Homo sapiens: one gene and its partner. The protein of the gene in region 2 interacts with the protein of the main gene of each other region in a pairwise test. Each region holds a gene or a part of one and is shown on either strand. Other genes may lie near its edges.

Region 1 (5,325 bases), on a different chromosome or scaffold from region 2:
GACGTGTTCTTTGAAATTTTAGAAACTAAACAGTGTTTAGCTTAGTTCCCTAGATTGTTATACTCTAGAACTGTTAAGACTTATAATAACATAAAAATGCCTCATCCTCAGTCTTTATCTGCTCTTTTAAAACAGACTTTAATAAAATGCATCAGTGACTCAACTATCCACATCCATGTGTCATACTTAAAGGGTAGATAACTAAGAAGAGGCTGTTACCAAACAACTTGTATTTTTATACTTAAGAAAATTATAGAGAAAACATAATCTTACAGAAAAATATATAATATAAAGTAATTTAGTGAATTAGTCTCAAATGCAAGAAAATTCACTGTTATTTTTCTTTCTTTAGAAGCCTGGAAAAACAAATTATTTGCTGAACTTAGCACTTCAGTTTTCTCTTATTCAGGGGAGAAAACTCTCTCATATAAAATGTAAAATATCTTAATATTTATTTTTATAACTTAAATTGACTTTTCTTCTCCATCAAATCAAATGCAATGGAGCAGGAGTTCTGTGTTTGTCACCAATCCTTTATTGAAACTGGTAACTTACACACTTTATAATAGAACAACAAAAATAATGTTCAATATATACAGCCTTCGCATGGACTATCTGACTATACACAGGCAGAGTGATAACACAATCTAATCTTCATCATAATCTGTGCACAAAAAGACACCAAACAGACAACATGTGCACATCACAGTGAAATGACATCACAGGTCCAGTGAAAATTCAGCATAATACAAAATGGACTGCTCTATTGCAAATGACATCTTTCTAAATGCCCAGCTCTTACTCAGTAGTAATTTACCCAGAGTCTGAAGCAGAGATTGGTTGTGTGGCTATAAGTCTCTTGAGTGAGACAACCTCTGCAGATAAGTTTGCTATCCCCTGCTTCAAATACAAGTTCTCTGGGTCAGAAACTTTGTAGCCACTGTCTTTCATTTCAACAACTCCAGTTTTGAAACTATTCTGAGTTTTGCCACTCAGTTCTTTTTGATGCCAGTGCTCCGATTTGAGAGACCAATCTTGAATGTTAGTCACTTGCACTGAGAAAGGAGTAAGAGAAGAATGTACCATACTTGGGGCACTATGCTTTTCGAGTTCGAAATGTCTTTTAGATGTCATGTCAATAGGTGAGGAAAGTTTTTGCGTGGCCTCAAATTCATTATCAAAGGCTTCTACTTTGATCTGCATGGCTTTGGCTTTGATCCGGAGCTTGTGTGGCAAGGCAGAGGAATTCACTTCTGGAACTTTAACCACAGTTGCATGCACATGCTTGAGTTCAACTGGAGAATGGATGGGGCCCTTGGGGACCTGTTGCTCGTCTTCTCCATCAGATGACTTTCCTACCACACCATCATCAGTTTCCGACGTTCTCGGGGAGTTGCTGGAGGATCGGTTGACTTGCAGTAGTGGGGGAGAGTGTGAGTACCCAGAGAAAGAATTCCCCATATAGTTTTGATAGATGGACGCTGTGTAAGAGCCTCGGTCATCTCTTGGCTCCCTTGTGTAGCTCTCTAATTCCATCGGCTCTTGCTTGATAATCTGGAACTTGTTTTCAGGACTTCTGCAGCTTCCCTGCACAGAGCTCTCCTGCGTGTGTTCTACTGAGGACACTTCTGAAACATCGGACAGCGAGCTTTGTGGAGAGTGTTTAATGACAGAAATACAACTACTTGACACCATCGAGGGTTCGTGCTCGTCCACAAATGAACTCACATTGGATTTGGAAGTCTGGTAATCTTGAAAGTACACAGCTGTAGAATTACTGAGTTTCTGAATCTCTTGAGCATATGCTGTGGAGCTAATTAAACCAAACTTTAATTTTAGTGAAAGCAGCTCAGCTTTTAAAGTGGCGTTTTCTTCTCCCAGTGCAATTAGTTTGTTCTCTAAAACCAGGTCATTCAGTCGACGCTTCTCACGAGATCTTTTGGCAGCTTCATTATTTTTCCGCCTTTTTTCCCAATACATAGCATCTTTCTTTTCATCAGGAATGAATTCCCGTTTCCTCCGACATGCAGAAGATTTGTTCTTCCCCACACTTCCTTCACTGAGAAGCAGCTCCTCACCTGTTGTGGAGTCTTCTGACACTTCCGTTAAAGCAGAATTAAGGACCATCATCTTGTCCACATTGCTACTGGCATCAAGAGACGCCTGCTCCTTTTTGACGGTCTGCATTTTTCTCAGCTGCATCAGAAACAACCTTACCCTATCTATGTGTGTAGGAGAACAAATTAATTTCCCCGTATTCTCAAGCTCTTTAAAAACTCTGGTTTAAAATCCATCAATATTCTTCCTTTTGTTCTACCGTCTGGGATAAATCCGTCAGGCTCCTTATTGAATGAAGTTGGGCCTCCTTCGTTATCTGCAATACATGAATAAAAAAAAAACCAGTTATTCACTGGATAAATGTTTATTACAAATTATGTACAAGGAAATATGCTAAGCATTTAGGGCATACAAGCACAGATGAGGCATGGCCACAGTTCTTTCTTTCAACAAGTTAGCATTTTCAAAAAGGAAATAAGTTCCCAAATACCTAAACTATAAAGCTGTAAAGGACAAATCCCTAATGAGGCCTATCAGTAAGAGAATATGTGATCCAGGAAAGTGAGGGAAAAATAAAATAACCTCTGCCCAGAGAGAAGTAGAGGAAGGCTGTATTTAATGAGGCGAAATGGAGAAATAGTTGGGTGTGGGCAATTACAGGAAGGAAATGACAGATAGCCTCTGGTTGGTAAGTTTCTAAACAGTACATGCATACCGTGGTGCTTCTAAATAATGTTACCTAATATTTACATCACTGCCAAGCAGATATGCTCACCTCTTAAAAGGGACTTTACCAAGTAAACTTTAACGTGAGTAAAAAAAAAGTTCTGCACTCCTATATGGAATAAAATACAAATGGAGACAAACTTCTTCTACAAAAACTAAAGTAAAAGCCACATTAACAACGGAGCTGTTGGTTTTAATCTACACCTTAACGTGGACATAAACCTGCCCATCACATCCTTGACTGCCTGGTAGGCTTATATCCCAGCAAATTCCACCAGGTGACTCACTGCAACTAAATGAAAAGGATTCTTCTCCATCAAGCCATCTCTTTACAAGCATCTGAGTTTAAGAGATTAGAATTTTTTTTTCTGATTCCTTTGAATTTGTTCTATCAAACATTCAAGATTGAAGTATCCAAAATGCTTTTTGTGATCTTGAAAATTCTGTCAAAATAGATTTCAGGTTTCAGTTACATAGTAGCTTTGAACTAAAAAACAGTTACTAGGCGGGGCACGGTGGCTCACACTTGTAATCCCAGCACTTTGGTAGGCCGAAGCGGGCAGATCACAAGGTCAGGAGATCGAGACCATCCTGGCCAACATGGTGAAACCCCATCTCTACTAAAAAATACAAAAATTAGCTGGGTGTGGTGGTGTGTGCCTGTAATCCCAGCTACTCGGGAGGCTGAGGCAGGAGAATTGCTTGAACCTGGGAGGCAGAGATTGCAGTGAGCTGAGATCACGCCACTGCACTCCAGCCTGGTGACAGAGCAAGACTCTGTCAAAAAAAAAAAAAAAAAAAAAAAAACCCCACACAAAACAAAAAAACACTTACTATTCAAAGGGGGTTTTTAAAAGTATAGTGCATTCTTGAAATGAAATTCTTTTAAACCAAGAGAATATAGTTACAGAAAAAAATTTCTTTCATTTATATGAATTAGTTTCAAGTAAAATATAACAACTCAAAAATAGAATCATTCATTAGTTTCCTCTTCCATTGATGAAATACTTACACTACAAATTTGGCCTGACAGTTGCCTTAGCTCGAGATAATAAAATCCATGTTATGTTCCAGTAGCAATCATTGCATGGGGGCTTTTGAATTTAACTGTGTTTCTAGACACTGATTCTCTGCCTAATGTTCCAGTCAGTAATATTTTTCGTTAAATAGACATGGTACAACAGTTCCATCAGCACGATCTGCACACAGTGGCACTTTATTCTACCCTACTAAAAAGATGTAATGAGCCAGGTGTGGTGGCTCATGCCTGTAATCCCAGCACTTTGGGAGGCCGAGGTGGGCGGATCACCTGAGGTCAGGAGTTCGAGACCAGCCTGGCTAACATGGTGAAACCCCGTCTCTACTAAAAATACAAAAATTAGTCGGGTGTGGTGACAGGCGCCTGTAATCCCAGCTACTCGGGAGGCTGAGGCAGGAGAATCGCTTGAACCCAGGAACCCAGGAGGCGGAGGTTGCAGTGAGCCAAGATCGCGCCATTGCACTCCAGCCTGGGGGACAAGAGCGAGACTTCGTCTCAAAAAAAAAAAAAAAAAAAGATGTAATGTTCTTACATGATGCCACTATCTCCTTCTTACGCCTAGTTTCATAATGACTAATAAAATGAAGTTTACTTTTATCAATTGGAAAAGCCTGCCAGCTTCTTTTGTCTTTTCCAGGGAATGAAAGGAATTATGTAATAATTTCAGGATCATAAAGAATAATGTTTCATGCCAGGTTTTTGCCCATTAAACTGAGCCAACATAGTTAAGGGAACAGCTAGTCGTAACTCAGAGAAATTTGTGATTATTAATATCAAGTTTCTGTTTGTTTTTTGGTAATGAAACTTTAATAGGAAATGAAGGCAAGGAGTGTGTCACAGTCAGCAGTGATGTTGCAGAGAAGGAATCTTCCTATTTATCATTTAAACAATATTATTTCCTTTTTTTTTTTTGATAAGAGTCTCGCTCTGCTGCCCAGGCTAGAGTGCAGTGGTGCAATCTTGGTGCACTGCAGCCTCTGCTTCCCAGGCTCAAGCGACTCTCCTGCCTCAGCCTCCTGAGTAGCTGGGGTTACAGTTACGCGCCACCACGCCCAGCTAATTTTTTTGTATTTTTAGTAGAGACGGGATTTTACCATGTTGGTCAGGCTGGTCTTGAACTCCTGATCTCAGGTGATTTGCCTGCCTCGGACTCCCAAAGTGCTGGGATTACAGGCATGAGCCACCACGCCCGGCCAACAATACTATTTCCTCTAATTTGCATTTAGGTTTTGTCCTCTAATATGAAAACCCAGTTTCCTTTACATATTGAATGGATTCTTTCCTCTGTTGAAGTCTGCACTCTGCCATTCAGCAAAGTCCTCCTGCTAAAGTAAAATGAGTGGAGAAGTAAAGAGGAAGATATCCCAGTTAAAGAAGACAATTGCACTGACCTTTCCCAAGGCACCTTTCAAATCTCCACTATACTCTTGGCCACTACTTTTTTCCACTTTTAGTTTTTAAACATCATATGATCCCTTGCAGACTATTATTCTGGTTATTTT
Region 2 (7,037 bases):
TGAGCTGAGATAGTGCCAATGCACTCCAGCCTGGGCAACAAGAGTGAAACTCCATCTCCAAAAAAAGAAAAAAGAAAAGAAAACTTGCAAAGAAAGAAACATTATATGTTAGGCAATAAACTAAGAGCTTTTTAAGCTCAACATTACTGATCATTAGAGAAATGTAAATCAAAACCGCAATGAGATACCATCTCACGTCAGTCAAATGGCGATTACCGGCCTGGCATGGTGACTCACACCTGTAATCCTAGCGCTTTGGGAGATCGAGGCGGGCAGATCACTTGAGGTCAGGAGCTTGAGACCAGCCTGGCCAATATGGCAAAACCCCATTTCTACTAAAAATACAAAAATTAGCCAGGCGTGGTGGTGGGCACCTGTAGTCCCAGCTACTTGGAAGGCTGAGGCAGGAGAATCGCCTGAACCCAGGAGGCGGAAACGATGCAGTGAACAGAAATTGCACCACTGCACTCCAACGTGGGCAAGAGAGCAAGACTCAGTCTCAAGAAAAAAAAAAATAGCTGGCATCGTGGGTGACTGTGGTCCCAGCTACTTGGGAGGCTGCCCAGGAGGCGGAGGTTGTAGTGAGCCAAGATTGTGCCACTGCACTCTAACCTGGGCAATAGAATGAGACTTTGTCTCGAAAAAAAAAAAAAAAAAAAAAAGAATGGCAATTAAAAAGTCAACAGTTGGCGAGGTTTGGAGAATAAGGAATGCTTTTACGTTGTTGGTGGGAGTGTAAATTAGTTCAACCATTGTGGAAGACAGTGCAGCAATTTCTCAAAGACCTACAGGTAGAAATACCATTTGACCCAGCAATACCATTATTGGTATATACCCAAAGGAATATAAATCATTCTATTATAAAGATACATGCCCACATATGTTCACTGCAGCACTATTCACAATAGCAAAGACATGCAATCAACCCATATGCCCATCAATGAGAGACTGGATAAAGAACATGTACATATATATCATGGAATACTATGCAGCCATAAAAAGGAAAGAGATAATGTCCTCTGCAGGGTCATGGATGGAGCTGGAAGCTGTTATCCTCAGCAAACTAACAAAGGAACAGAACATCAAACACTGCATGTTCTCACTTATAAGTAGGAGCTGAATGGTGAGAACACGGGGACACATGGTGGGAGAACAACACACACTGGGGCCTGTGGAGGAGGGTGCGGTGGGGGAAGGGAGAGCATCAGGAAGAACAGCTAATGGATGCTGCGCTTAATACCTAGGTGATGGGTTGTTCTGTGCAGCAAACCATCATGGCACATGTTTACCTATGCAGTAAACCTGCACATCCTGTGCATGTACCCTGGAACTTAAAAGTTGAAGGGAAAAAAAAAGGCTAGGCGCACTCCAGCCTGGGTAACAAAGTGAGACACCCGTCTCTTAAAATAAAAGAGAGAGAGAGAGAGAGAAAAATATATTTAGACAGTTACCTCACCCCAGCTTTAGAAATGGGACAACTTGGCCAGGCACAGTGGGTCACACCTGTAATCCCAGAACTTTGGGAGGCCGAGGTGGGTGGATCACTTGAGGTCAGGAGTTCGAGACCAACCTGACCAACATGGTGAAACTCGGTCTCTACTAAAACTACAAAATTAGCCAGGGGTGGTGGCACATGCCTATAATCCCAGCTACTTGGGAGGCTGAGGAAGGAGAATCGCTTAAATCCAGGAGGCGTAGGTTGCGGTGAGCCGAGACCATGCCATTGCACTCCAGCCTGGGCAACAACAGTGAAACTCCATCTCAAAAAAGAAAAAAAAAAAAAAAAAAGGAATGGAGCAATTCAGGCACAACAAAACTTGCAAAAATATAGCCAAGTGCGATGGCTCATTCCTGTAATCCCAGCACTTTGGGAGACACTTTGTACCCTTAAGCGATAGGATCGCTTGAGCCCAGGAGTTTGAGACCAATCTGAGCAACACAGTGAGACGCTATTGTTACAGGACAGGGTCCCAATCCAGACCCCAACAGAGGGTTCTTGGATCTCGCACAAGAAATAATGGGTCAAGTCCACAGTGTGAAGTAAAAGCAAGTTTATTAAGAAAGTAAAGGAATAAAAGAACGGCTACTCCATAGACAGAGCAGCCCCGAGGGCTGCTGGTTGTCCATTTTTATGGTTATTTGTCGATGATATGCTAAACAAGGGGTGGATTTTTCATGCCTCCCCTTTTTAAACCATACAGGGTAACTTCCTGACTTTGCCATGGCATTTGTGAACTGTCATGGCGCTGGTGGGAGCACAGCAGTGACGACGACCAGAGGTCACTCTCGTGGCCATTTTGGTTTTGGTGGGTTTTGGCCGGCTCCTTTACTGCAACTGTTTTATCATCAAGGTCTTTATGACCTGTATTTTGTGCTGACCTCCTATCTCATCCCGTGACTTAGAATGCCTTAATCATCTGGGAATGCAGGCCAGTAGGTTTTAGCCTCATTTTACCCAGCCTGTTTAAGATGGAGTTGCTCTGGTTCATACGCCTCTGACATTTCCCCCCGTCTAAGAGAACCCTTAATCCTAAGGGTTGCAGAGGGACGAAGATCCATCTTCTATAACTTCTTCAGGCTAAATAGGGCAATGATATTCCTGCCTGCCTATGAGGGTCTCTTGCATTCAGGGTAAAAAGGAGCTCAGTCAGAAAGCATCAGTATGGTAAGGTTCATTCATAACTCAAGTTTCAACAAAAGGTGGTATCTGGAAAATTAGTAAGAAAACGTTCAGTAAGCTTGTCCTGTATTCCTACACAAAAAGTATAACAGCAATATATTCCACAAGAGTAAAGCAAAATAGGCTGGGTACAGTGGCTCACACCTGTAATCCAGCACTTTGGGAGGCCGAGGCAGGTGGATTACCTGAGGTCAGGAGTTCGAGGCCAGCCTGGCCAACATGGTGAAACCCTATCTCTACTAAAAATATAAAAGTCAGCTGGGCGTTGTGATGTGTGCCTGTAATTCTAGCTACTTGGGAGGCTGAGGCAGGAGAATCACTTGAACCCAGGAGGCGGAGGCTGCAGTGAGCCAAGATGGTGTCACTGCAGTCCAGCCTGGGCGACAGAACAAGACTCTGTCTCAAAAAGAAAGAAAGAAAAAAAAAAGAGTAAAGCAAAATAAGTAAAGTTATTCCAAATAAACTAAATTAGAAGACTTTTCATGAACCAGGCAACCACTGGAACTAAGCTGATATCGGGTTGTTAGCTGATTGTAATGTGCCCAGAATCAGAATACTGATCCAGATTTTTAAATTACCCATCCCTCTTATTTCTTCTGAGCAACAATTAGAGATTACTGGTTGGTTTACAAGAATACGCAGGGTTAGCCTAAATTGCAGAAACAAACTTAAAAACAATTAATGAGACCAGAATTTAATAACAAGTGTACCATAGTTTTTGAAACATAGTATTTCTCTCTCCAGTTTCCCATTTTTACTAAAGACAAATTATGGTAAGACTGACTTGCTTTATTATACTTGGCCTGATTGTTTGTATAAAGTGCAGCAAGAATAATAATTTTTCACATAGGCTTTTTAATTGGCTTTGATGGAACTCTGTTTCATAAGGAATCTCAGATAAGACTTTTTTAAAAGCCAAGCCCTGACATGGGTTTGTACCCTTAAATACCTATAACTTGGGTAAATTTCTCTCCTTTTGAGGTCCCAAGATAACTTGGGGCTCCTGGACAGGTGAGAAAGTGACATTCTTTACTTACCATAGGTCAGAAACCCTGTACAGGCACTGTGTAGGCAAGGTATGAGGCCAGTTCCCCAAAGGGCTTTTATTGGCTCTACAAGTCAAGTTTGATTCCTTAAAGAAAAGCACACCATTTCAGTCAAAGCCTTGGTAAAATAACCACTTTCTCCAATTGTATTCTGTTACAAAAGAAAACAGATTCTTATTGCACTTATGCAAATAATTACATTGCCATAAGTTAAGAATACTCACAACTAGTTTCCAAATTCTGGAGAAATCTGATATAGAGAAACAAATATGTTCCAAATTTCGTTCACAGCAGTATACTTTACTCAATTGCTATGAACTGTAAATAGCTCAAATGAAAAGTTTCCTTGACTCTGAAAAACAAAACAAAGGATCAGCAACATTTTAATCAAAGATTACTTCAGTTTTCTATTGGTTCAGTTGATTCAATTAACTCATGTTTCATTTGATATTCATGAACATTCTAGCTCTTCATGAGTTCTGAAAGTTGTTTCCTCTATTCTAATGTTACAATTTCCAAAGTTATTAGAAACCTGCATTTAAGAACACCTGCTAGAGTTCTATAGCTGATTATAAATCATCTTCTAAACAGGATTAAAACAAGACAACAATTGTCTGTGGATGATAAAAAGTTTTAGGAGAGCCACTATTAAAGCCAGAAATGATAAGGAAATTTGGTTACTTCTGTGGCACACAATATTTTGCATAACAATTATAATTATTAATAACATACACTAAATCATATTAGAATTATAGGAGTTTCCCATAACTTTGGAACATATACCAATAATACAGTTATGTAAATATAATCCAAAGAAAGCAAAACACCATTTGACATTTGATAATGCTTCCTGTATGAATTTTTTTTTTTTTTGAGATGGAGTCTCGCTCTGTCACCCAGGCTGGATAGAGTGCAGTGGTGCAATCTCAGATCACTGCAACCTCCCCCTCCCAGGTTCAAGCGCTTCTCCTGCCTCAGCCTCGAGTAGCTGTGACTACAGGTGTGCGCCACCATGCCCGGCTAACTTTTGTATTTTTTGATAGAGATGGGGTTTCACCATGTTGGCCAGACTGGTCTCAAACTCCTAACCTCAGGTGATCCATCTGCCTCGACCTCCCTAAGTGCTGGGATTACAGGTTTGAGCCACTGTGCCCGGCCAACTTAGAATAATTATTTAACTCTTTAGCCAAAAAACCCCACATTTCCATGCCTTCTTATAATCTTTTACCAAAAGTACATTCTATTTTCCTTACTACACACCTTACATGTAAAACTGTCTCTTCAATAGTCTCAGTTACATGTTCCAATTTTAACTTTTAGCGACTTTTACTTTTGGTGAAAACCCTGGTTAGTAAGCAATTTTAATTATGTACTAGGTGTGGAGCCTAGCCTAGGACACACCAGGCAGAAGTGCAGATAAGAGCTGACTCTCCAGCACAGCTTAGGGGCGTGGCTAACTCCACATGTCCCCAGGCCTTATCTAGAATCTAATGGCTTTAAGGTAGGGTAAATTGAACAATTTTTAAAAGTCAAAGAAACAGTTTATGACCTCAAATCATTTAACAAACTTAATATCTGACCTGCATAATTAAGATTAACATTTTTATCAATTTTAAAGATGTGTTTATTTCCTAAAGATTACTAAAGTTACATGAACTAAAAGGCATTAGTTATTTTGCTTTCAAAATATTTGATTTAAATGTTTATTTTTGTTTAAGCTGATTAATCAGAGCTCTTTTATATAAATATTACACACGACACCTATATAGCTACACAGAAAGACAGATGATGATGATAACAGTGGTTGTAAGATTTTTCATTTGCCAGTTTTTAAGTTTCTTAATTGGATTACCGGCTTCAGGGTGGAGCCCTTGGAAGAACAGGGCCACGAAAGGGGTCTCTGGTGCCTCTTGTTTTTCCCAAGGAGTCCAGGCTGTTAGAGCTTGAATATCCACTTTTAATTAAACTTATTTTAACCATAGCACTCTTTAATAAAGTCCTTTTAGAAGTTTTTATGCCAAACGGCTGGTATTTCTGGCTTTTGAATTTTATCAAAGGTAACCTCCCAGGTGCTTAGAAAAAGGAAAATATAAGACAGTTCACAGAGGAGAAGAGAATAGACAAAGTCATGCAGATATTAAACCAGAAACGACTTACTTCCTAGGTGGGTAATTGAACCTGGACTGTTGCCACGGAAGTGCAAAAGCTGGCTGGGTGCGGTGGCTCATGCCTGTAATCCCATCAGTTTAGGAGGCTGAGGCAGGTGGATCACCTGAGGTCAGGAGTTCGAGACCAGCCTGCCCAATATGATGAAACCCCATCTCTACTAAAAATACAAAAATTAGCTGGGCGTAGTGGCACACACCTGTAATCCCAGCTACTTGGGAAGATGACGCAGGCAAATCACTTGAACTCGGGAGGCGGAGGTTGCAGTGAGCTGAGATCGCACCACTGCACTCCAGCCTGGGCGACAGAGCAAGACTCCATCTCAAAAAAAAAAAAAAAGAAAGTGCAAAAGCTTAGCTACTGAGCTACAGCACAGGGCAGTCTCTGTTGACCTTCCCAGAAGGAGTCTAGAGTAGTTAATTTTGAGCTTATAAGGGCTTTTAACTATTTAATATTATTTTTAGAGCTAACTATGACATGAATCCTGAAATTCCTGTTCTCTGAAGGTGGGGACCAAAAGAAAGTACCACCACATGGTTAAAAGGTCAAGCTCCCAAGGACGTAAAACAAGGTGGAGACTTCATCCAGTCTTTTATTTGTTACAGGGACCTGCAGCCAAGTATCTTACTGACCAGCTTGCTGGGTCATCTTGAAAAGCGAGCTTACAGGTGTTCTTTTTTTTCTTTTTTTGAGATGGACATGGAGTCTCGCTCTGTTGCCAGGCTGGAGTGCAGTGGCACGATCTCGGCTCACTGCAACCTCCGCCTCCCGGGTTCAAGTGATTATCCTGCCTCAGCCTCCCAAGTAGCTGGGACTACAGGCGCACGCCACCACACCCAGCTAATTTTTTGTATTTTTAGTAGAGATAGGGTTTCACCATGTTGGCCACGGCTGGTCTCAAACTCCTGACCTCAGGGGATCCACCAGCCTCAGCCTCCCAAAGTGCTGGGATTACAGGCCTGAGCCACCGTGCCAGGCTGATTTTTTTTTTTTTAACCATTCACTTAACCATTTGTACAGTGAGAGAGAAGCCAGAAATCTGACTGGTAATACATTCTTACCCTTTTGCCAGCATCCCAGGCTTCTGGGTTCCCTTTCCCTTAGTGGTCCTAGTGTTCAAGCTTGCAGCATCATTGCCCTGGGGG

What was found.
Region 1: the proteins of ATF1 (region 2) and NFIL3 interact in binary tests that used the Homo sapiens proteins (3 or more experiments, as listed by UniProt).

Annotation. Positions count from the first base shown.
Region 1 is NC_000009.12:91,408,533-91,413,857, forward strand, and holds the end of NFIL3 (nuclear factor interleukin-3-regulated protein), read right to left. Parts: intron 2,649-5,325; exon of another isoform or gene 2,471-2,648; intron 2,375-2,470; 5' UTR 2,203-2,374; coding exon 814-2,202; 3' UTR 513-813; downstream 1-512.
Region 2 is NC_000012.12:50,767,070-50,774,106, reverse strand, and holds part of ATF1 (cyclic AMP-dependent transcription factor ATF-1), read right to left. Parts: exon of another isoform or gene 6,954-7,037; intron 659-6,953; exon of another isoform or gene 1-658.